3 separate regions of the Homo sapiens genome follow, and all the other regions are linked to region 3. Evidence: fine-mapped expression QTL. A gene starts in region 3. Each other region holds a variant in brackets. All regions are shown on one strand. Distances are between the middles of the regions. Region 1 overlaps LSP1 (lymphocyte specific protein 1). Region 2 holds the start of MRPL23 (mitochondrial ribosomal protein L23). Region 3 holds the start of MRPL23-AS1 (MRPL23 antisense RNA 1).

What was found.
Region 1: its variant is fine-mapped to the expression of MRPL23-AS1 in subcutaneous fat (GTEx, PIP 0.97).
Region 2: its variant is fine-mapped to the expression of MRPL23-AS1 in thyroid (GTEx, PIP above 0.99).

The regions. Positions count from the first base shown.
Region 1 is chr11:1,880,125-1,888,294 of GRCh38, reverse strand. LSP1 (lymphocyte specific protein 1) reads right to left here. Exons shown (of 11, transcript NM_002339.3): 2 at 8,071-8,170; 3 at 6,699-6,863; 4 at 4,735-4,876; 5 at 4,271-4,363; 6 at 3,972-4,015; 7 at 3,714-3,795; 8 at 1,429-1,563; 9 at 981-1,058; 10 at 719-821. The coding sequence ends at 732. PRR33 (proline rich 33) reads left to right here. Exons shown (of 1, transcript NM_001395380.1): 1 at 1-217. MIR7847 (microRNA 7847) reads right to left here; the gene lies at 8,148-8,170. Among named protein-coding and RNA genes, the nearest start is that of MIR7847, 4.2 kb to the right of the region's middle. RefSeq lists a silencer at 922-1,088 and an enhancer at 6,066-6,275. The variant G/A (reference allele first, on the strand shown) is at 3,645.
Region 2 is chr11:1,940,560-1,948,729 of GRCh38, reverse strand. MRPL23 (mitochondrial ribosomal protein L23) reads right to left here and starts at 1,398. Exons shown (of 5, transcript NM_021134.4): 1 at 1,351-1,398. The coding sequence starts at 1,367. The variant T/C (reference allele first, on the strand shown) is at 4,044.
Region 3 is chr11:1,986,771-1,994,940 of GRCh38, reverse strand. MRPL23-AS1 (MRPL23 antisense RNA 1) reads left to right here and starts at 5,021. Exons shown (of 4, transcript NR_024471.1): 1 at 5,021-5,115. LINC01219 (long intergenic non-protein coding RNA 1219) reads right to left here and starts at 3,845. Exons shown (of 3, transcript NR_126400.1): 1 at 3,682-3,845; 2 at 2,661-3,003; 3 at 1,472-1,686. It also overlaps a transcript of MRPL23 not described here. RefSeq lists enhancers at 3,132-7,202, 7,197-8,051, 3,132-8,051.

The DNA.
Region 1 (8,170 bases), 110 kb after region 3:
GGGCCTACTCAGCAGTCAGCCAGGCTCTGGTGGGGGTGGCCAACCACAGGAGAGGGACACAGAGGTACCAGAAAAAGCCTCTGCCACAGCTGCTTGAGAGTCAGGGTTTGGCAGGGGAAGATGGTAGGAGGACAGCTGCCCCACCCTGTGGTGTGATGGGTGCTGGAAATGGAGCCTGGGGCCCAGGTCACTAATAAATGTGTGTCTCACCATGGCAGGAGTGGCACTGCTCTGTCTGCAGCATGGGATGGGGAGGGCATCAGGACCTCTGAATCGCTCTCGGCTGGGACAGGGAGTAGGACCTAAGTTCCTGCCCCTCTATGGACCCTCAGCATACAGATGGTCAGGGAACCTGGGCTCCATGCCACCTGCTTCCTTCAATGCTAGCCCTGTGGTGGCCAGGCTGCCCCTCACTTCCCTCACGAGCCCTGCTGTGGCTTTTGGGGAGTCCCAGATGGGAGCCTTGAGCTTCCCTAGTGGAGCAGTGGCTGAGCCGGGCTGACTCTAGTGAAATGAGCAGAGAGTTTGAATCTGGTATCAGGTGAGAGAGGCAGCATCTGCACAGGACTGGGAGACTGAGCTGGTCTGGGTTCTGGCCAACTCGGAGTCCACCCTTGTAGCCTGCAACAGGGCTCCAGGCAGCCTCCAGGTTGCCAAGTTCCCAGCACAGTGCACGTGTGTGCACCTCATCCCCTTCTGTGAGTTGCCAGGGACTCACCGAGATGGGACGCCTAGGGAGCCGGGCCCCCTTCCACAAGCACCTTCTCATACTTCCCATGCCCGGTGGCCACAAACTTATACCTCTTCCCAGATGGGGTGCTCTGTTGGGAAAGGAGACCAAGAGTGAAGGTGAGAGCAGCAGAAAGGAGATGATGCTGCCTCCGCCTCTGGGAAGCCCTCCCAGATGCACAGAGGACAGTCCCTCTTTGCCCTCCCCTGCTGCACCCACCCTGCCTGCACCAACCACATTTAGGCTCTACCTTAATTGTTGATGAGGTCTTGGAGCCTCCCTTCTGCTCCCAGAGGCTTTTCTTGCTCATGTCTCCAGCCACAATATCCTGGGGGCAGCAGAAGGGTATGTCACAAGGGCAGACCCCTGGATCTTGGGGAGTAGAAGCCCTGGGCCCTTCTCTCCCGCCTTGCCTTACCTGGCCAGGGGGCCTGGGATCTGCCTACCTAAACTTTTTCTGTGTGATCCCAGTGGAAGAGGCAGGGAAAGGAATAAAGGTGCCATCTACCTCCACTCGGACAACACAGCCTTCTACACCAGCAAGGGTGAACCCAACCCTACTGCAATACCTCAGGGTTCTGTATACCCACATTCATCCTGGACAGTCCCATGCTTGTCTTAACAAGGAAACCCGGCCTGCTACTAAACTCCCAGGCGCTGGCTCTGCAGCCCAGCCTTGCCCCTGGAGGGGACCTTACCTTGCAGGACGGAGTCTTGGCCGCAGACTGAGCCTGTACCTCACCCGTCTCCCACCGACTCTTGGTACTGGCCACAGCCATGCTGGGCAGCTCTATGGAGGCCTGGCGGGCTAGCTTGGGGGTCCGGCCAGCGGTCTGCAGAGGAGGAAAAGCATCAGGATTACCTTAGTGGACAGCCACCGTGGTCACATCAGAGGGTCACACTGGGCAACCGTCTGCTTTGTGTTTGTGTTTTCCCTGGGAGCGCTTTCCCAATGCAGCCCCAGAGTGGGGATCACTGGAAAGATGAGCCTTCCTCCATTCGATGCAGTTGTGAGACACCTCCCTGTCCTGAAGAGCATCAGGGAGATGATGGCGCACAGGACAGATGTGGGTCTGCCTCCATGCTCCTCATGGGGTAGGGCTGGGGGACCATGGGATGGATGGAGGGACATTGAATGGATAGAGGGACAATGGTTAAATTTCAGAGTATTGGTTGGATGGAGGAGCATTGATTAGATGGAGGAGTATTGGTTGTATAGAAAGGTGTTGATAGATGAAGGAATATTGATTGGATGGAGGAGTACTGATTATATGAGGGAGTGTTTGTTAGATGGAGGGGCATTGATTGAATGGAGTAGTATTGGTTGGATAGAGCCGTATTGGTTCAATGAAGGGGCATTGATTGCATGCAACGACGTTGATTGGATAAAGGAGTATTGGTTGGATGGAGGGGCACTGGTAGGATGGAAAGGTATTGACTGGATGGAGGAGCAGTGAATGAATGAAGGAGTATTGATTGGATGGGGAAGTATTGGTTGGATGGAGGAATATTGATAGGATACAGGAGCATTGATAGGACGGAGGAGTACTGGTTGGATGGAGAGGCATTAATTGGATGGAGGAATATTGGTTGGATAGAAGGATGTTGGTTGGATAGAGGAACATTGATTGCATGGAGGAGTACTGGTTGGATGGAGGAGTATTGGTTGGTTGAAGGGGGATTAATTGAAATCAGAAGTATTGCTTGACTAGAAGGGCGCTGATTGGGTGAAGGAGTAAAGTATGGATGGAGGGGCATTAATTGCATAGAAGAGCACTGATTGGATGGAGGAATACTGGTAAGATAGAGGAGTGCTTGTTGGATAAGTGAGTACTGGGTGGATGGAGGGGCACTGGGTGGATGGAGGGGCACTGATTTAGTAGAGTGTTGGTTGGATGGAAGGATACTGGTTAGATGGAGATGTCCTGATTAGATAAAGAAGTATTGGTTGAATAGAAGGGCATTGATTGGAAGCAGAGGCATTGATTGGGTGAAACTATTTTGGTTGGATGGAGGGAAATTGATGGGATAGAAGGCCATTGATTGGGTGCAAGGCATTATTGGATGGAGGGGCATTGACTGGATGAAGTTGTTTTGGTTGGCTGGAGGGGAATTGATTGAATGGAGGAGCACTGAATGAATAGGGGTATTGATTGGATGAAGGTGTATTGGTTGGATTGAAGGGAGTTGGTGGATGAAGGACTATTGGTTGGATGCAGGGACATTGACTGGATGGAAGAGTATTGGATGATTGGATGGAGAGGTACCGATTGAATGGAGGGGCTGGCATGTGGGACTGGCATTGGTTACATGGTGAGCCATTCATTGGATAGATGAGTATTGGTTGGATGGAGGGTATTGGTCAGATGGAGAAGCATTGATGGATGGAGGAGAATTGATTGGATGGGAGGGACATTGATTGGATGGAGGGACATTGGATGCAGAGGCACTGATTGGATGGAGTAGTATTGGATGGAGGGATGAATCTTGATTGGATGGAGGGGCACTGATTGGATTAAGGAGTACTGGTTGGATAAAGGGGGATTGATTGACTGGAGGAATATTGGCTGGATAGAGGAGCATTGATAGGATGAAAGAGCATTGATTGGGTGGTGGAGTACTGTTCCGAGGGGGGCATTGATTGAATGGAGGAACACTGAATAATTGGAGGAGTATTGGTTGCAGGAGTATTGGTTGTATAAAGGAACATTAATTGGATGCAGAAGCATTGATAGGATGGGAGATTATTGGTTGGATGGAGTAGCATTGATTGAAAGGGGGGGCATTGATTACATGGAGTGACATTGATTAGATGGAGGGGCATTGATTGGGTAGAGGGGCACTGACTGGATGGAGAAGCATTGGTTGGATAGGGTGTTGGTTGAATAAGGCGGCACTGATTGGATGGAAGGGC[G/A]TTGGTTGGATGAAGGAATGGTGCCAGGATGCAGGAGGGACCTGACAGCAGAGGGGAGCCAGGTCATACCTCGATGGCCTGGGTGTATTGTTCCAGCCACTGATCAATCTTGGAGATGGGCAAGTCTGGCTGGGATTTCTTCACACTGTTACTGGAGGGTAGAAGATGTGTCAGGCCCCATGTCTCCCACAAGGCTTCTCCCAACCTGCCCAAGCCTCTCCCAGAGCCCCCCTCGGTCTCCAGATCTCTACCTTGTGACTCCCTTCAACCCCCACTTGGTTAAACCTAAGATCTGAGCCCAGAAAGCAGACAGACAGACAGACAGACCTCTTCTCTATGGAGCGGTTTAGGGACTCGGTCCTGTCGATGAGCTGCAGAGGGTGGAGAGAGACACAGGCCTGCAGCAGCCGAGGTAAAGCCCACCCTCCATCTCCCCAGCTACTCCAACCACTAATCCAACCCCCAACCCTTATATCATGGGGGTTCGCTGAGCACCGGGCAATGGGGGGATAGCAGACAAAAGCCAGGCCTGGGCCTGGTCTTCCTGTGGCTGGCATGTGGGATTGGCCTTTTGGGTATGAGTACGGGAGAGGGGAGAAGATGGCAGGCTTTGCAGCTTAACTTACTTTGGTGGTAGGGCTCAGGGGAGGCGAGCTCTGTTCGATGGTCCCCTCCAAGACCAAGGGGCTGGGTGTCCTGGGCTGCTGACATTTCTGGTGCTAGAAAAAAAAAAACAGACATCCCAAGTGACCCCCTGCTTGTGCCCCTCCTGCCCTGCCCAGCACCTGTGGGAACAAATGCTGTTCCTTCCTGAGCCCCAGGTTCTCTGTGGCCCTGACGTGCTCCAGTTCTGGAGCTGGTGGGGAGGGACTGAGGAGTCTGGAGAGATGTCTCCGGATCTTGCAAGAGGATCACTGAGCCTTGCCCTCTCTGAGAATGTGGGCCCAGAAGGGGCTGCAAGGTCTAGGGGTGTGGGGTGCTGACCCACTCTGGGCTAGACCCACAGGGCCCACAGAGTGGTGCAGACAGCCAAGGCAGACTCATCCCTGGGGTGGGGGTACACCCAGACCCTCTGAGGTGGAGCCATCACCTCCTCCTGTTCCTCCTCAGCCCCTGCGGCCCCCAGGTTGTCCTGGACAGTGTCCTCTGGGCCTGGCCCCTCCTTGCTCAGACTCAACTCCTCCAGGTGGACTTCATCACTGTCCTCCTTTTCGTAGGCATGCAGGCCGGGCCTGTGGGTGGAAAGGGAGGCAAAGCCGTTCTAGGGCCATTGGATTGCTTGGTTGACCCCTTCCTTTTTCCAAGCCTCAGTTTCCCCATCTGTAAAATGAAGGTAGTCAGGCTACTTGAGTGCCAAGGGATCTGAGACCCAAGCCCATTGGGAAAGAAGGTCCAGTGGCCTCAGAGCCAGCGCAGTCTGCTTGGGCCCCTGTGTCAGGGCCTGAGGCCCCTGGGGAACTGCCCAGTCCCTGCCAGACAGGGCTCTACAGACTGAGGGTCCCCCAGGCACTGAGGCTGGGTTCAATCCCCAGCTTTGTGGCTGGGCCTCAGCTTGGCAGCTGCTTGCACACCCGGTTGGTCTGACGGGGTCCCCGCGAGGCCGGGCTGCTGGGGCCACCACTCCTGCTCTGCTCCCTGTGGGGGCCCTTGGGTGTTTGGGGGACTGGAGGCTGGGTCATTTGGAGGGCTAGGCAGGGGTAGGGGCCAGGTCACTGAGGAGCAGGGCCAAGGGGCTGCCGGCTGCGGGGGAGGGGAGGCCAGCCAGCTGGCAGCTTTGAGCGGCTCTGCATTTGAGCAGGACTGAACCTGGAGGAGAAGATGGGAAATTCTCGAATTTTCCATGATTTCAGGCCCCTGGGTGTGCGTGCCAGCCAAGACCCAGACCCACCCGCCCAAGGTGGGCAGGGGTCTGAGCCAGCAGCAGCCACACAGAGGGGCCATTCAGGAGCAGGTCTGTGCAGCCAGGCAGGTGCAGGGGGTGGGGTGGCGGCCGCAGAGCTGGGCTCCACGGAAGAGTCAAAGCGCCCCCTGCTGGTGGGAGCAGCCTCGCCCGCCTAGGCCTGAGGCCAAGGGAGAAGGGAGCTGCCCCATCTCAGAAAAGCAGAGCCGCTGACTCCCAAGCACGTAGGGGGGAGACTGAGGCCCAGGGAGGGGGGCGGTGGGCACTGCGCCAGGCCAGGACCAGTGGTTCTTGGGGAGTGGGAGCCTGGTTGTAGGAGGACAAGGGAGCGTCGCTCAGCAACACTGGTCCCTAGAGCTCCAGGCTGGTTTAGGGCCTCAGAGGGGCCAGGAAGGACCCTGACCAGGGAGAACTGTCAGCCCAGCCATGGGCTCTGGTCCCACTCAAGGCAAGGGGGTCCTGAGCAGGGCTGGGGTCCCAGATGGCCCAGGCCCTGCAGGGCGGGTGGGGTCAGCCCCATCATGGCCACAGATGACTGAGAGCGGCAAGGACCCCGAGCAGGGGTAGTGAAGTGGGGCTCGGGAGCAGCCCCTGTTGGGCCTGTTGGGGTTGAGACAGGCACACACATCCCCACATCTGGAAAGTGCGTCCTCCCGGCCGACTCTCCGGCATGCACATCTGGAAATACCTGCTCCCCTCCGTGGGAATGGAGATCAGCCAGCCCCGAGGGAGGAAGGGGCGGCGGCGGGCTCTCAGCCTCCATTACGGAAGCGGCCGCAGCTGTGTGCTGATGTGGCAGCACCCGGCCTGGCCTCGCAGCTGCCTGGATGGGGCCCAGGGGCCCTGGGGAGCCCCAGAATGAGGTTTCCTCGCGGCCCCTCGCCGGCCACCATGCTGTCTCGCCCTCTTCCTCCCTCCCCTCCTGTCTCCCCCTTTCCTGGCCATGGGGGCATTTCAGGCTCTGCTTGGAAAGGGGAGGATGGGGTGGCTGCTCAGGCGCAGGTTGAGGGCCTGAAGGGAGCTCCGCGGTGCCCTGCTCTGCCCAGCGCCCGCCCTCGAGGTCCAGAGGGAGCCCTGCTCTGCCCAGCGCCCGCCCTCGAGGTCCAGAGGGAGCCCTGCTCTGCCCAGCGCCCGCCCTCGAGGCCCTCACTCACCTGTCCTCTTGCTCCCCCTCAGGACTCCTGCACTGGGGGGGCTCTCCGCTGTCCAAGGCGCCCTGCGCCCCCTCGTGCTGCTGCCGCTGCTCTGGCCTCTGGGACCAGTCGCCAAAGCCCTCGTCCTCATCCAGTTCAGGGGCCTCCGAGGGCTTCAGGCTGAGGCTGAGGGTAGCAGGGGGGAGCTTAGGCCTGGGCGGCTGCTGCCTCCTCTGCCCAGGGCCCACACTCACCTCACGGCGCCCGCTCAGGCCCTGGACTCCAAGTGTGGGAGACCCTGTCTGCCACAGAGCTGGCTCTGGGCTGTGTCTCCTGTGGTCAGAATACCTGAGGGCAGGGCTATGCCTCCCCCGTCAGTTCTGGGGCAGCCTGAGAACTGTGCTTCCTCCATCAGTCCAGGACTCCTTGAGGCTCAGCAGGGCTATGCCTCCTCCATCAGCCTGGGGCTACCTGAGGGCAGGGCTATGCCTCCCTCATCAGTTTGGGGCTCCCTGAGGGTAAGGCTGTGCCTCTTCGATCAGTGTAGGGCTCCCTGAGGACAGGGCTGTGCCTCCCCTGTCAGCCTGTGGCTCCCTAAGAGCAGGGCTGTGCCTCCCCCATCACTCTGGGACTCGCTAGGGCAGGGCTGGGCCTCCCCCGTCAGCCTGTGGCTCCCTAACAGCAGGGCTGTGCTTCCCCCATCAGTCTGGGGCTCCCTAGGGCAGGGCTGTGCCTCCCCCATCATCCTGGGGCTCCCCAAGGGCTGCCCTGGTCCCCACATGAGGACCCTACATGAGGTCCTCCTAAGCCCCGACTTCTCAGGCCTCCCATGTGGCAGGGGGAGCCCCTGGATAGCTGGGGCCCTTGGTGGGGGTGGCCAAGGGCCTGACTATGGTGACCGCTGAACCCCACTCTGCCCAAGGCTGCTGACTTGGAGAAAATGGAACAAAAGAGGCCAGAAGGAAGGGAAGCATTATTGGAAAAACAGCCCAGCCCAGCCGCGGAGGCCTCCTGGGCCCAAGGAGGAAGCAAGCCAGCCTGGCCGCCAAGTTGGACGTGGCTCTGTGAGTCACTGGCGGGGGAGTCTGGTGGGGGGCTCGGCCAGGCTGCGTGGCTGGGGTCAGAGGCGGTCCGAGCAAGGGCCAGGGCACGGACACAGAGCCTGGGTCAGCGCCCAGGAGGCAGCCAGGTATTGGCAGACCCTCCTCTAGGGCTGTGGCCACCCTCGCCCCAGGAGCACTCACCCACTCCCACGCCTGCTCCTGGGGGCCCTTCCTCGCTCTCATCCTGCACTGGAACCCCCAAGCCCAGGCCCTTGACCTCCCCCTCTGCCCAGGCCCCAGGGTACACGGATAGGGGCTAGAGCCCAGGCACGCGTTATGGGGCTGCTCACAGCATCTCCTGCTTCGGCCGCTCGGGGACATGGCCGCCTCCCTCCTCGTCCTGGGCCTGAAGCTGCCTGTCTCTCTCATGCTGGCATTGCTCGTGGACGG
Region 2 (8,170 bases), 46 kb after region 3:
TCACAAGCACCTCCACGGTAACCTATCTCAAGTAGAACTCTGCACTAACTTCTTCCTCAAAACACAAAAACCTGGCTCACTGCCACCAGCCTGCCTCCCCACGGCCCCACGAGTGACTCACCCAGGATCCCACCCTCTCGGCACCCCCACCCCAGCTGCATCCAGTCCACAGCAAGTCCAGTCAGCGCTCCCTGCAAAGGCTCCCTGGCAACAGGAGTGTGTGCACTGCTGGGCGAGCGGGCCCCGCTGCCTCCAAGGCAACCACACCTGATCCGTTTCCAGGGGCCCACCACCCTTGGCCCTTCAGGAACACCCCACCCGGGTCCTCTGACCCTCACTTCCTCCTCATTCTCCAGGGACAGGCGAAGGGCCAGCGTGGAATTCACGTGAGGCTCAGGGCAGTGTTGGCCTCACTCAGACCTTTTCTTCCTTGGTGCTGGGTGTTCCCCAAGGTCAGGGCCACGCGCAGCACCGGTCCCAGGTGTCTGCTGAAGGAAGCCTCCTCCACTGGGGGTCCCACCTGCCACCCTCCCCTCTCTCCCCAGCTATGTGCAGGGGCCTCCAAAGCCACACCCTGGCCCCTTGACCGTCCCTCTCCAGAAACACTGATTACTGTTCTCCAAAACCCACCCGGGAGCCCACATCTACTGATTACGCCTGAGTCATTCGTTCACCAAGAAATATGCAGGGCTTCCTGCTTCAATTTGGGGAGGGCGAAGTGGTGCAGGACAGCGCCCCGATGGCCCCCTGGGAATCCAGAGAACATGCAGAGTGGGCGTGGGGGGTCTGGGCTGAGCAGAACCGGGCCTCCCGCCCTGCCTGCCCCAAAGCCCTGAGGGCTGCGGTCAGCTGCCCTTTCCCACTCAAACCCAATCTGGATTCCCAGCTCCTCTGCCTCAGGCCGCGCCCGCGCTGCGGTGGGGGCCGCCCGGGCCTCCCCGCCTGGACCCAACAGCCGACGTGGCCCCCGCCCCGTGACGATCAGAAACGTCTCCAAACAGCTCCCTCGGCCCTGGCTGCGGGACCAGCCCCGGGCCTGACCCCGGGCCACCCTCCCACTCCCCACGCGGGGGCACCGTGGCCTCCATGGGTTTGGCTCGGACCCTCTGTCCCCAGCCCGGCCACGCCCGCCCCCTGGGGTTGCCCTAAACCTGGCGGGGGGCTCCTCCGCCACCCGCCTCGCGTGTCTCAAGGCATGACAGGGGGTCCCGGAGAACCCTGCCTCGCCCGGGCCAGGAGGCGGCCCAGGGACGCCCACCCCGCTCCCCGGAGTCCGCGCGCCCTGTGGGGTCCGTCTGCTTGTGACACTAAGGGGCGCCCCGCGACGGGGGGGTGACGACCCCTACTCACACCACATTCCGCGCCATGGCGGCCACGCGCGCTTCCGGGGTCCGCGAGGCGGAAGGAGCAGCGCGCCCGCCCCGCACGGCCGCCGCCTGGCACAGCGCCCCCTCGCTTCCGGAGGCCGCGCCGCCCCCCCCGCACGCGCCAGCGCCCGTGCCGCGCGCCCGTGCCGTCCCCAGCCCTGCGCCCGCCCCGCCCCGCGCCGCCTTCTTCTCCCTCCCTGCCCCCCTCCTGTCCCGCACCCCACGTTCCTCCCCGCCCCGACCCCCACTCCCCGCGCCGCAGACTCCACAGGACGCGGGGCCGCAGCAGTCCCGCCCCGCACTCCCGGCCCCACAGCCTGAAGCCCGGGCCCGCGCCCCTGCTGCTCGCGCCCCGCCCACGCCCGCACCCCTCCCAGCCCCAGAGACCTCCCGCCGCCGTCGCACTCTTTCGGGCCTGTCTGCCCTGCCTCCCGGGACCCCGGCCTGCACGCCCCCCACACCCGTGCCCCTGCCCTTTGGCAGCTCCAGGCCACAGCCTGGCCCCGCACCGCTGCGCTTGCAGCTGCTGGGAGCTGGAAGTGGAGAACCGGGGCTGTAGTGCTGGGGAGGGCGGGTCCCCGGGCCTGGGGTCTGAAGCCCCTCTCTCCATCTGGCTGTTTTTACCCGGGAGCCCGGAACCCCAGGGCCCCTCACCTCGCCCTTCTGGCCAGCCCGGTTGGCAGCCCCCACGCTGGCCACACCAGCCACGCTGTCCATCCTCGGTGCTCCCACCACGCCTCCTCCAAGAGGGCCACTGGCCTCTTCAGGCCTTGCCGTTTGCTCACCCCCTCTCCACCCTTCTGGCCAGCCCCCTCCAGCCTCTGGCAAGGCCCTCTCTACAGGGACCCCCGTCCAAGGCCCAGTCCTCACTCCTTTCCTTGGGTAGTGCTGGCCAGGAGGGCTGCTGGGACCCTTCGGGAGTAGAGGGCAGCAGCCTCCCTCCCCTGTCCCCAGGCCTCTCCCTCCTCCCCTGGTTTCCTCTGCCTGGTGGCTGGATTCAGGCCACTTCTCCATCTATCTCTTTAACTGCCCGTGCCCCCCACCCCCAAGCCTGGCTTGTTCCCGCACCCAACAGCACCCTAAGTGTTCTTCAGAGCAAGAGGCAGGGGTGTCATGCTTCAGAGCAAGAAGCGGGGCCATGGGTCCTGGTTGTTGCTGGGGGCAGGGGGCCCAGGCCTGCAGGTGGGAACAGGGCTGCGGGAGGGCACTGGGGTTGATGGAAATTCAGGAGGAGGAGAGGGCACTGTGCCCCTCCGAGGGCCTGGGCCGGGTAGGGCTGGAGTTCCTCCTGATGGGTGGGTTTGAGTGGAAATGACTCCAGGGGGTCTATCTAGCATGAAGGCATTGAAGCAGGATGGAGTGAGAAGTGGGCCAGAGTGGGCAGGGAAGGTGGTGGCAGCCGTCCCCACTGTTGTCCAGGCCTGCGTGAGGTGGAGAAGCTCCAGGCTGCCAGTGGCAGGGTCCCAGGAGGCTGGTGACCAGACAGGCCTTTGCCCAGCAGCAGGTGCCCTTGGCCAGGCCCAAGGAGCAGACCGCAGGACAGGGATGGAGCTGGAGAAGGGGGGTCCTGGGGCCGGGGGTCCTCAGGCTTCCTTTTATGTTCATGCAATGCTGCCTCTTTCGGCAGCCACATTGTGCAGTGTGCTTAGAGATATGTGGCTGCTGGAAGTTGGGTTCAGAGTTGTGGGTGGCCGATGTGGAGAGGAGGGTGATTGGAGGCCGAGCTGTGGGTCACGGGTGGGTGCTGCTCAGATCACTGGGGCTGCTGGAGGGCGGCGGTTGAGCTAGGAGCTGAGGTCCTTCCTCAGGGCGAGGCAGGGGTGGGGTCACAATGGAGCAGACCCCTCACCACTCCTTCCATCCCTGTTTCTCTGATAGTCTGCTAATGGGATCCTCCGGAAGGCATGCTAAGTATGGGGGGTCTCTGAGATGCCTGGGGAGCCAGTGGAGACCTCCTCTTCCTCCTTCCCACCTGCCATTGAACACAAATGCCAGCGCGGCTTCCGCTCTGCCTGCCTCTCCTGAGATCAATGGTCTGCACGGGGTTGAGGCTGCCAGATAAATACAGGCCCAGTTAAATCTGAAGTTCAGATAAACAACTAATAAATTGTCATTTTATTTTTATTTGTTTATTTATTTGAGACAGAGTCTCACTCTCACTCTGTCGCCAGGCTGGAGTGCAGTGGCGCGATCTTGGCTCACTGCAATCTCTGCCTCCCGGGTTCAAGCAATTCTCCTGCCTCAGCCTCCTGAGTAGCTGGGATTACAGGCGTGCGCCACCATACCCGGCTAATTTTTGTATTTTTAATAGAGACAGGGTTTCACCATGTTAGCCAGGATGGTCTCCATCTCCTGACCTCGTGATCCGCCCACTTTGGCCTCCCAAAATGCTGGGATTATAGGCGTGAGCCACTATGCCTGGCCCTTATTTTATTTTATTGTATTTTATTTTTTATTTTTTGAGACAGGGTCACGTGTAGCCCAGGCTGGAGTGCAATGGCACAGTCTTGGCTCACTGCAGCCTCCACCTCGTAGGTTCAAGCAGTTCCCCTGACTCGGCCTCCCGAGTAGCTGGGATTACAGGTGCGGGCCCCCACGCCCAACTGATTTTGTATTTTTAATAAGGATGGGGTTTCGCCACGTTGGCCAGGCTGTTCTCGAACTCCTGACCGCAGG[T/C]GATCCACCTGCCTCGGCCTCCCAGAGTGCTAGGATTACAGGCATGAGCCACTGCACCTGGCCCAATAATTGGTCCTTTTTAAGTAGACCTTATCTTTTAGAGGAACTTTGGGCTTACAGAAAAATTGCTCAGGGAGTATACAGAGTTCCCACAGACCCCCTCTCCTTGAGTGCCCCTCCATTATTAACATCTTGCATCGTGTGGTGTGATCTGTTCCAATTGATAAACCAATACTGATGCATTACTATTAAGTCCAGAGTTTACCCCCAGGTTTCATCCTTGCAAAATGTCCTTTAGCCACCACTATGGTGTCACACAGAAGTGTCACTGCCTGAAAAGCTGCCTCTGCCCTGCCTGTGCATTCCTGCCTCCCCCGGCCCCTGGCAGCCCTGGCTCTTTCCACTGCCGCCTTGGCATTGCCCTCTCCAGGCTGTGGTATCATTGGAATCATACAGCACGTAGCCTTTCGAGATTGGCTTCTTGCCATGAGTGAGATGCAGCTAGGGCTCCTCTGGGTTTTTTTGTGGTTTCATAGTGCATTCTTTTCGGGCCGGATATTGTTCCATTGTCTGGATGTACCTCGGTTTATCCCTTTGCCTACGGAAGGACTTCTTGTTTACTTCCAAGTCTCGGCAGTAATGAATAAAGCCTCTGCAAACATGTGTGTGCAGGTTTTAGGGTGGACACAAGTTTTCAATTCATTTGCAGAAACACCCAGGAGGGCCATTGCTGGTTGTATGGTAGGAGGACGTTTGATTTTGTAAGAAACTGCCCCGCGGTCTTCCAAAGTGGCCGCACTGTTTGGCGTTCCCACTGCAAAGGTGGTGCTTCCTGCTGCTCCACGTCCTCAGCAACTTCTCATCGGTGTGTCGGGACATGCTCTTCTGCTTCCACCTGCTAGACCTGAGCCAGGAGCCCCGCTGCAAGGGCAGCCCCTAAACTGAGCTTTGCGAGTCAGGCTGGGGGAGCTGGGGCGTTTTTACAGTGAGGGTCCCTGAAGGGTTTTAAGGGAACGTACGAATTCAGCTGGGAAAGCACTTTCAGCCTGCAGATGAGAATCAGGTCGTGGGGGAGAGGGGCCGTTCACACATACACTCACTCATTCATTCATTCGTACAGAGGGTGGGGGGAGGGGCTGTTCACACACACACTCATTCATTCATTCATTCAGAGGGTGGGGGAGGGGCCGTTCATACATACACTCATTCATTCATACAGAGGGTGGGGGAGGGGCCGTTCACAGATACACTCATTCATTCATTCATACAGAGGGTGGGGGGGAGGGGCCGTTCACACATACACTCATTCATTCATTCATACAGAGGGTGGGGAAGGGGCTGTTCACACATACACTCATTCATTCATTCATTCAGAGGGTGGGGGAGGGGCCGTTCATACATACACTCACTCATTCATTCATTCAGAGGGTGGGGGAGGGGCCGTTCACAGATACACTCATTCATTCATTCATACAGAGGGTGGGGGGAGGGGCCGTTCACACATACACTCATTCATTCATTCATACAGAGGGTGGGGGAGGGGCTGTTCACACATACACTCACTCATTCATTCATAGACTCATTCATTCATCCCGCCAATAAACACACAAAAAGGTGCAAACACTTGTAGCGAAATCACTGTAAGCACAAACCAGTGAGCCACCATGTTCAAATGCAGGTTTTCAAAGATTAGGAAGAAATGGCAACCCCCTTGTTTTACCCAGCACCTACTTGTGCCAGGCCCTGGCTGCAGATCACCGGCTCTCACTGTCCAGGAACCAGACAGCCCAGGGGAGGCCAGACCCAGGCACCAGGATCCCTGGGGCAGAGCAGGCAGGACTCACAGGAGAGGCACAGGCAGCTCAGAAGGGTTGTTGCCAGCCCTTGCCCATCCTGCAGGCCACAGCGTGGACCACAAACCCTCCTTGCCTGCGTCCAGCATCCTCAGACCCTGTGTACCGGCTGGGTGACCATGGCTCTGGGAATGTGGCTTGCTCACATCCACAAAGCCATTGTGCATTACACCAGGATAGAACCCAGAAGACACCACCCCCCCAAACAGCCTGCGGCCCTCCCCAGAGCTGTGATAGACACACCCATTGCCCCAAAATTTTTCTCGTGCCCTGTGTGGCTCCCCATCCCATCCTGGATTTCCCAGTCTCAAGCAAGCAATGTCCTGGTCGGTTTCTGCTTTTGTATGTGTGTGTGTGTGTGTGTGTGTGTGTGTGTGTGTGTGTGTTTTGAGACGGTCTCACTCTGTTTCCCAGGCTGGAGTGTGGAAGTGCAGTGGCACAGCAAGAGCTCCTTGCAGCCTCAAAGCTCCTTGCAGCGCCAGCCTGTGATCACCAGCCACACACGTGGCCACCTGGCTTTTCTCCCAACCAGAAGAGAAGGCCCCCCACCCACATGGGAGGCTGCGTTTGGACAGGACCAGGACAGCAGGCGGGGGTGTGTTGGTGCTGCCCTGACGAAGCCCTTCAGAATCAGCTGCCATTAGAGACTTCTTGTCTCCCCATCAGCCCCTCCCTCTCCCTCCCCCCTCCCTCCCACCTTCCTCCCCCACTCCCTCCCACCTTCCCAGCCAACCTGGCCCCTTTGCTGCAGCAGCAGAGCCCCTCCCAGCACCTGCTCCTGGTGGCCCAGGGCTCAACAGTGCCTCCATTCTAGGAGTCCCATCTTAATCCCAGTTCCCCCCACCATTCTTGGCCTCCTAGGCACCCTGCTCTCGGGTGCCACAAAGAGGGGGTGGCAGAGGTAGTCAGCCTCTCACATGGCGTGGTCGGGGGCCTCTGAGGGTCCACGTGGGCCTTCTTGTGCCCCTGTAGCATGTGGGCTTCCCGGGCCGCAGGGCCTGGGCACGTGCTGACCCCGCACACTTGCCATGCCCTCTTCCCACGGAGGCCTCATTCACCCACCTCATTGAAAACTGCAGCCTCGGCCAGGCACGGTGGCTCACACCTGTAATCCCGACACTTTGGGGGGCCAAGGTGGGTGGATCATTGAGCCCAGGAGTTTAAGTCCAGCCTGGGCAACATGGTGAAACCCCTGTCTCTACAAAAAATAGACAAGTGAGCCAGGTGTAGCGGCGTGCGTGTATCGGTTGCTCATATTTCTGATTCCAGGGCTTGGCTGCTTCTGTCTGTCGCTCATGTTTTCTGCAGGCTGAATTGTGTCCTGCTTAAAATTCTTACCTTGCGGCCGGGCACAGTGGCTCACGCCTGTAATCCCAGCACTTTGAGAGGCCGAGGCGGGTGGATCACCTGAGGTCAGGAGTTGATCAGCTGGCCAACAGGGTGAAACCCTGTCTCTACTGAAAATACAAAAATTAGTCGAGTGTGGTGGTGCGTACCTGTAGTCCCAGCTACGAGGGAGGCTGAGGCAGGAGAATCGCTTGAACCTGGGAGGTGGAGGTTGTAGTGAGCCGAGATCGTGCCACTGCACTCCAGCCTGAGCGACAGAGTGAAATCCGTCTCAACAAAAAAAAAATCATATGTTGAAGCCTTAGTCGCTAATACTTCAGAATGTGACTGTTTTTGCAGATGGAGTCTTTAAAGACATAATTAAATTAAAATGGAGTCATATGGGTGGGTCTTAATCCAATAGGACTGGTGTCCTTATAACAAGAGGAGATGAGGACACAGACACGCACAGAGGGATAGCCCCGTTGGGGACACAGGGAGATGGTGGCATCTGCAAGCCCCGGAGAGAGGCCTCAGGAGGAACCAGCTCCACAGCACCTTGATCTCGGACTCCAACCTCCAGGACTGTGAGAGAATAAATGTCTGTCATTTAAGCTGCCCAGACTTGGTGCTTTCTTATGGCAGCCTGAACAAATTACTTAGGGTGGGAATGTTTTCCTGACGTGTTTTTCCAAGTGTCTTTAATGTATGAATGACATGACTCCTTCTCTGTCATACTTGATTCAAAATATTTTCCCAGTTTTGTCATTTGCCTTATACTTTTTAAAACCACCTTCGTTGAGGGTGTCATTGACACGCAGCCATTGCCATGTTTAAACTGCACGATTCCATCCATCTTAATCTACATAGACAGCCATGAAGCCAGCCCCATCAGGAGACAAACACCCTCATTGCCCCAAAATTGTCCTCGTGCCCTGTGTGGCTCCC
Region 3 (8,170 bases):
GGGCTGTGGGACCAGGGGCTTCACAGACTGGGCGGGGGCTGGGCTTGCGGAGGGGGCCTGCGCTCTGAGGCAGGGGTCGGGGACCACCAAACCATCCCCGAGCGAGTGCCTCCTGTCGCCCCAAAGTCCCATCAGAATGACGCCTTGGTGCTGGCCCCAGACCCCTGAAGCCCGGGCTAGGTGACTGGGGTAGAGCTGGCCATGGCCGCTCTGGGAGGCCCACAAGGTGCTCTGGGCGACCCCACCCCGACAGGGGCACGAACCCCGCGCCAGTCCCGTTCCTGCTCCCCTTTTGCTGTGGGTGGGAGCCGGGGCCACGCCGGAGGGACGGCCCCGCACAAGGAGCCAGGGGGTTGTGGGGGAGCCGGTGGGCTTCTCAGTGGGCAGGTGGCCTTGGGGCAGAGGTCCTAAGGAGGCCAGGGGACCAGGAGGAGGGAGGAAGAAGTTGAGGGTGGCCACAGGGAGGAGGTGAGGAGGAGCGGGAGGGCCCAGGGTGAGGGGCTCCCGGGCTCCCTCCCCGGGGTCTTGCTGCTGGAGCTCCAAGAACCCCGGTATGCAGGGGTTCGCTCCCCAGGTGCCAAGGCAGCCCACTCATGGGTTCCGGGTCAGCTTCCCCGCAGAGGCCAGTGGCCGGCAGCTCCCTCAGCCAGGCCTCCCAGCTCCCGGCCCCTCGCTGTGCAGGCGCTGGGAACACAAGGGGCAGCCCCTGGAAATAAGGGTGGGGTCCCGGCCTCCCCATTCCTTCCCCCCTCCCCCCTGCCTTCCACCCCCATTCCCAGTGCACAGAGCTGTCAGGAAAATTCCTCCCCGACTGACAAAGAACAGACAGGAAGGCGGTTAGGGACGCCCCTCCCCTACCGGCCCAGCCGCCCTTGGGGTCTTGGTGTCCAGGGCGGAAGAGCAGGGTGGTTCCCCACGTCCCTTGGGTCTGGCCTCCCCTCTGCACCCTCTCTTGCCCCCTCCCCATCCAGCTGTGGGCCCTGGGGACTGTCAGAGACCGAGGGGTTTCCAGGGACACACTTGTGTGCTAAAACCTGGGCGGGTGGTCACCCCCCAGGATGCATGTAGACATCCGGTGAGGGAGTCTCTTGAAGTCTCTGGGATGGTGCCCCTGGGACTGGCTGCCATCTCATGGAGGAGGTCAGAGGTCGCTGGGGCCAGCCCAGGGTGAGGCCGCATTCATCTTCCTGACCCTACAGGCCAATTTGACTTACCCAAGTGGGTTTTGGCCGGCAGGATGAAGTAACCCATCCATTACATGTCAAGAGTTAGGTCTATAAACGGCCTTTATTATAAACATCCAACTCTGCAGGAGGTTTACAAAGCAGGGCTCAGGAGATAAAAGCCGGCTTCCCCAGGTGGCGGCTGCAGGGTGCGGCAGGCAGCCCCAGGGGTGCCCAGGGTGGCGGGGCAGGGGAACCGTAGGGAGGGGGAGAGGGGCACCCAGAAAACCTCTCCTGGAGAACATGGAAGACTCTGCCCACTTCAAATCCCTGCCTGGGGAAGGACACATGGGAATGGGGCCGGGGGAAAAGGCGGGCCACCTCGGGCCTTCGTCACCTGTGTCAGCTCCTAGGGATTGTCTCCTCCTGGTCACTTGGAGAGAACAGGCGTGCTGGACACGTCCACATCTCTGGGCCCGGGGTGTATGAATGACACGCTTGCTCTGGAGTTTCCACCTGGGAGCTGTATGGGGACAGGGCTGTTCCTCCTCACACCCGCTGGGGAAGGGACACAGGCCTCTTGGTGGCCCCCACCATCTCCCAGCACTGCCCATGGCTGTGCCCACGCTGGCTGCCCCCTGAGAGCAGGACGTGTACTCAGGGGCAGCGCCTACCTCTGGGCAGCCCAGGTTTCTCTGCTCCCTGCAGCGGAACGGGCTTCCTAGGGCAGTTCCTGGGGTGGTGTCCCTAGGGCAGCCCCTGAGTGCTGGAGGGGGTCTGGGCCACAGGCCCTGAAACAGGGAGGTGGTGGGGGCAGCGTTCAGGGGGCTGAACCTCAGGGTGAGGCGGGCAGGCGGGGAGCCACAGGCCCGGGGGCCCCGCAGCAGGTGCTCAGCCTCGGAGCCTCCTGCCGCACCCCGGGGCGGGGGCTGGGAGCCCGCCCGAGCCCCTAGCTCTGAGCGACCTGCCAGGTTGGAATGTGTGTTTATCTTTGGCCCAACCCGATTTCCTGCTTTTTAGAAAAGGGGCTTAGAGAGGGTTGTTAGACAGGCTCCAGGCACCCCAACACCCAAAGGCACTTTGAAAACGCCCCTGCACTGACTTCAGTGCGGAGAAGCAAACGGGCTGGAATTTCACTCCCAAACCCCAACATGGGGGTGGCGGGGCCGGGGTGAGGGTTGTGGCTGCCTGCAAAGGTGCCAGGAAATCTGGGGAGGGAGGAACTTCCACCGTTCAGGGAGACCCTGAGGGTGCCCTGGCTTCTGGCCACGTCCCAGACCCTGTTAGGCACCGAGGTCTTCACACCCAGACCCTCCACCCACCCAAGTTTCTGCGGCACGTTTAGGTTGAGTGAAGACCAAGTCATCCAGTTAGAGAAGAGGACTTGAGGCGCGTGCTGCTGCTGTGGCCACGCTGGACCCTCGGTGCACGCATCTCCTGGCGAGTCCCCTGTGGCTCTGTGGGCCGTACACACCCGGGGCACGCGACCTCAGCTACCTTGTCACCGAGGACGTGCATCCACAGCTGTGCGTCTGTGCCTGGGAGCGGGGTCTCCACTTGGTGGGTCTCTGCATGCTGACCAGTTAACCCGCCTTTCCGGGCTGTGGAGGGCGTGGGTCCTGTCCGGCCCGGAGATGCTCCGCGGGGTGTGTGTGTGATCGTGGCCCTGTAGCGGGGTGGTGTTCCCTGGAGGGTGGACCCCTGAGCCTGGCTGTGTGTGGCTGTGTCTCAGCATGAATTCCGTGACCCAGGAGCACGTTTTCAGGCAGGGATTAGGGGCAGCTGGGTGTGGGAGGCAGGCACTTGGTATACCACCGAATGGAGACAGAAAATCCCAACTCTACGAAGGAAGTGAAGTCCCTTCAACAGGGACAAAGCGATGTTTTGGGTCTGACTACAATGCACCCTGGGAAGTCTCAAAGAAAACAGTCGGGGACTCAAGGAGGGCAGCCCCCTCTCCCCGACCCCGAGCTCCCAGGAAGATAAATGATTTCCTCCTCTCTAGAGATGGGGGTGGGATCTGAGCACTCAGAGCCAAGGGCGCAGTGGGTCCGGGCGGGGGCCCTCCTCGGCCCTCCCAACATGGGGGCCAGGAGGTCAGCCCCTCAACCTGGACCCCGGCTGGGTCTCAGGGAATGGTCTCCCCCAGTGGCCCAGCTTGCTTGTGTTTTCAGATGGGTGTGCACGGGTGTGTGTGTGTGTGTGTGTGTGTGTGTGTGTGTGTGTGATGCCTGACAAGCCCCAGAGAGCCAAAGACCTGAGTGGAGATCTTGTGACTTCTCAAAAGGGGGATTGGAAGGTTCGAGAAGGAGCTGTGGTCAGCCTTGCTCTCCCTTAAGGCTGTGGTAACCACACTAGGCATAGCATAGGCCTGCGCCCCGTCCCTCCTTCCCTCCTCCGCGCCTCTCCTTTCTCTTTCTCCCCCCTCTACCCCGCTCCCTGGCCTGCTCCTGGTGACACCGTTGGCCCCCTTCCAGGGCTGAGGGAAGCCAGCGGGGGCCCCTTCCTGGAAGCCCACCTGCAGGCCGGCTTGCTGGGAAGGGGCTGCTCTCGCAGAGGCTCCCGCCCGCCCTGCAGCCGTTTCCTGGAAGCAGTCGCTGTGGGTATTCTGTTCCTTGTCAGCACTGTGCTTGCAAAGAAAGCAGACACTGTGCTCCTTGTCCTTAGGGAGCCCCGCTCCATCACCCAACACCTGGCTGGACACAGGCGGGAGGCCGGGTCCGCGGGGAGCGGCGCGGGGCTGGGGCCGGACCAGTAAACACACACGGGCGCCAGGCACTGCAGGCTCCTCCTCCTCCTCCTGCCCAGCGCCTCTGCTCACAGGCACGTGCCAAGCCCCTAGGCCAGGAGGCCCAGCAGTGGGTGCAGAGCAAGCTCCTGGGAAGGGGGTGCAGGGCGGACCCCCGGGGAGAAGGGCTGGCAGGGCTGTGGGGGACGCTGACCGTGGGCCCCACGTTGCAGAAAACTGGCTGCCTGGCTGGAAGATGGGGGAGATGCCAAGCCTCTGAGGCAGCACGAGCAGGGTGCATGGAGGCCGGGGCGCGGGGAGGCTGCACTGCAGCATGCACCCCAAAGCCCAGAGGGAGTGGAGACCAGGCCCTGGAATCGAGAAGTAGAAAGGCGGCTTGGAGGCCTCGGAACCGGCTGACCTCCAACAGAGTGGGGCCGGCCCTGGAGGCAAAGAGGTGCCCGGGGTCCGGCCCTGCCTGGGGGAGCTATGTGTCATGGGCAGCCACAGGATATGTAGCCAGCTCTGAGCATATGGACCCAGGGCAGGGCTGCAAGGCAGGGCAGGGGAGACAGACGGGGGAGCAAGGAGCAGAGAGGGGGCCTCAGGCTCTCCCAGGAGGAACATTCTCCCGACAGGAGGAAGAGACGGCCCAGGGGTGACTGTGGGGAGCCATGGTGGCAGCTGGGGTCGTGGCAGATGGGAGAGAGGCTGGCGAGGTGAAGGTGCAGGGGTCAGGGCTCTGGGGCCCACATGCCTGTGGGAGCGGGCAGGCCCAGGGCTCTCCGCCACTCCCCACTCCCGCTTGGCTCATAGGCTGGGCCCAAGGGTGGGGTGGGATGAGCAGGAGATGGGGCCCAGGGGGCAAGCAGGGCCCCAAAGACATTTAGAAAAACCGGTTTATGCAGGCAGCATTCAGAGCAGGCGGCGTGCGTGGCGGGGGCCCTGGGAGCACAGAGAGGCACACGTAGGGCCCCCGAGGGTCTCCCCATTGGCCGGCAGTGACATCACCCCTGTGTCAACAGTGATGTCTGCAGCTCCGGCCAGCCAGGGTTTATGGAGCGAGACCCAGCCCGGCCTGGGCCCTCACTCCCCAGGCCCACACACTAGCCCACTGTTCAGGGTCCGGGGTGGCAGCATGGCCTGGGGGTCCTGGCACCGCTGCTCCTCTGCCCACCCTAACTTCCCGGCATGGCGGCTGCCCCCTCTGAGCGTCCCCAACCAGTAAGTGTGGGGCCAGCAGGCCTGCCGTCCTCCTCCTCTTCCCTCTAGAGAGAAACGTGGAGGTCCTGGGGCTGGGGGCGCTCATAGCCCTGTGACACAGGTGCATGGGGTCAGGGGTCCCAGAATGGCCCCTGGGAAGGACCTCAGCTGGGCCGGCGGCTCTAGGCTTCAGGGGTCTGTCTGCACAGGGGCTAGCCCCTCCCAGACCTCTGTGAAGCCAGTACGGGCCTCCCCTCCCTGCCCCGTGCTCTGTCCGGTGCTTCCTGGACTGCACTGCGGGCCACTGGTGAGAGGGTGGACAGGGAAGGGCCGCCGTGGTGCCTGTTCCTGCCCACCTGGCTGTGTGGTCCCCTCCAAGTAGGGACAACCCTTCTGAGGGCTTGGGGGCACCCTGGGGTTGCCAGGGCCTCCCAGAGCCCTGTGAGCCCCTGGGGGGTCTGGCCTGATGCCCCCCTCCACGTCCAGGGCCGGCTGTGGCCCAGAACCCCAGCTTCCCAGCAGGCCGGTGTGCGGTGGTGACCCAGGAGAGGCCTCACCTCCACTGAGGGGCCACCGACCTCTGCCAGGCCACAGAGACCCCCAAGGAGTCTGAAGGCTGGAGACCCGGGGCTGGGACCAGGTGGGACTTTCCCACGGAGCCGCCCCCAGGCCCAGCTGGGGACACGTCCCCCTTCTCTCCAGACACACCCTGCCTGCCACCACGACACACCGGCCTGTTGGGGGTCTCTTTTAAGTGCTTGCCACTCTGAGGTGACTGTCCCTTTCCAAAGAGGTTTCTGGGGCCCAGGTGGGATGCGTCGGCCTGAGCAGGAGGATCTGGGCCGCCAGGGGCTGGGGACTGTCTCCTGGGGAAGGAAGCGCCTGGGAGCGTGTGTGCTGACCCAGGACCATCCAGGGAGGCCCGTCTGTGGGGCAAGCGGGAAGGGAGCGGCTGGAGAGGCTTGGCCGCCCCCGCCCTGCCTCCCATTCCTTAGCTCCATGCCTGTCAACCTCTGTCACCCAGTGAGTGATGTCCAGGGGCCCTGGAAAGGTCACAGCATGTTTGAGCGGGGTGAGAGAGAGGGGAAAGGCGGGGGCGGGGAAAAGTACGTGGAGGAAGCTCTAGGCCCAAGGAAGGAGAAAGGGTTCTGGGAGGGAGGGAGCCACTGGGGCCGCCGGGAAGGTCCCTGCCTGCTGCTGCCACCCAGAACCCTCGCCTCTTAGCTAGCCCCCGCAGCCCCAGCCTTTCTGGCCTGTGCCCCTCTCCCCCATCCCCAGCTGTCCTGTGCAACCAGGCCTTGGACCCAAACCCTCCTGCCCCCTCCTCTCCCTCCTCACCCTCCCAATGCAGTGGTCTCCAGCCTGGCTCTGCCCTGCCGCAGGTCCCCTCCCCTCATTCCAGGCCTAGAGCCTCCAGTCCCGGTGGCCCCCAGCCCGAGGGTGAACGGCCTCACCCTGGGTCGTGGGACAGAGGGCACGTTCATCAAGAGTGGCTCCCAAGGGACACGTGGCTGTTTGCAGTTCACAGGAAGCATTCGAGATAAGGAGCTTGTTTTCCCAGTGGGCACGGAGCCAGCAGGGGGGCTGTGGGGCAGCCCAGGGTCAAGGCCAGGCTGTGGGGCTGCAGCTGCCTTGGGCCCCACTCCCAGGCCTTTGCGGGAGGTGGGAGGCGGGAGGCGGCAGCTGCACAGTGGCCCCAGGCGAGGCTCTCAGCCCCAGTCGCTCTCCGGGTGGGCAGCCCAAGAGGGTCTGGCTGAGCCTCCCACATCTGGGACTCCATCACCCAACAACTTAATTAAGGCTGAATTTCACGTGTCCTGTGACTTGGGTAGACAAAGCCCCTGTCCAAAGGGGCAGCCAGCCTAAGGCAGTGGGGACGGCGTGGGTGGCGGGCGACGGGGGAGATGGACAACAGGACCGAGGGTGTGCGGGCGATGGGGGAGATGGACAACAGGACCGAGGGTGTGCGGGCGATGGGGGAGATGGACAACAGGACCGAGGGTGTGCGGGACACGCATGTCACTCATGCACGCCAATGGGGGGCGTGGGAGGCTGGGGAGCAGACAGACTGGGCTGGGCTGGGCGGGAAGGACGGGCAGATGGGATCCCAAGGACATGGAATTTCGGACCTTCTGTCCCCGCCCTCTCTGCTGAGCCTAGGAACCTCTGAGCAGCAGGAAGGCCTTGGGTCTAGAGCCTAGAAATGGACCCCCACGTCCACCTGCCCAGCCTAGACCCCCAGCATTGAAGGGTGGTCAGACTTCCTGTGAGAGGAAGCCACTAAGCGGGATGGACACCATCGCCCACTCCACCCGGCCCTGCCCAGCCCTGCCCAGTCCAGCCCAGTCCAGCCCAGCCCTGCCCTTCCCAGCCCTGCCCAGCCCAGCTCATCCCTGCCCTACCCAGCCCAGCCCTGTCCTGCCCTGCCCAGCCCAGCCCAGCCCAGCCCTGCCCTGCCCTGCCCTGCCCTTCCCAGCCCTGACCTTCCCAGCCCTGCCCAGCCCAGCTCATCCCTGCCCTACCCAGCTCAGCCCTGCCCTGCCCTGCCCAGCCCTGCCCAGCCCAGCCCTGCCCTGCCCTGCCCAGCTCAGCCCTGCCCACCCCAGCCCAGCCCAGCCCAGCATGCCTTCTCTGGCTGGAGAGCACAGGCTTGACCTTAGAAAGAGGCTGGCAACGAGGGCTGAGGCCACCAGGCCACTGGGTGCTCACGGGTCAGACAAGCCCAGAGCCTGCTCCCCTGCCACGGGTCGGGGCTGTCACCGCCAGCATGCTGTGGATGTGCATGGCCTCAGGGCTGCTGGCTCCAGGCTGCCCCCGCCCTGGCTCCCGAGGCCACCCCTCTTATGCCATGAACCCTGTGCCACACCCACCTCTGAGCTGTCCCCGCTCCTGCCGCCTGCACCCCCTGAGCAGCCCCCTGTGTGTTTCATGGGAGTCTTAGCAAGGAAGGGGAGCTCTTCAATCTTGCCAGTCAGGGTGCTGTCTGCTGAGTAAGTGTCCCCGTGCTGTGCCCCAATGTCCCCATCCTTTGGCAAACAGCCATCAGCCTGTGGATCCTGCACTCCCATGCGGTGGG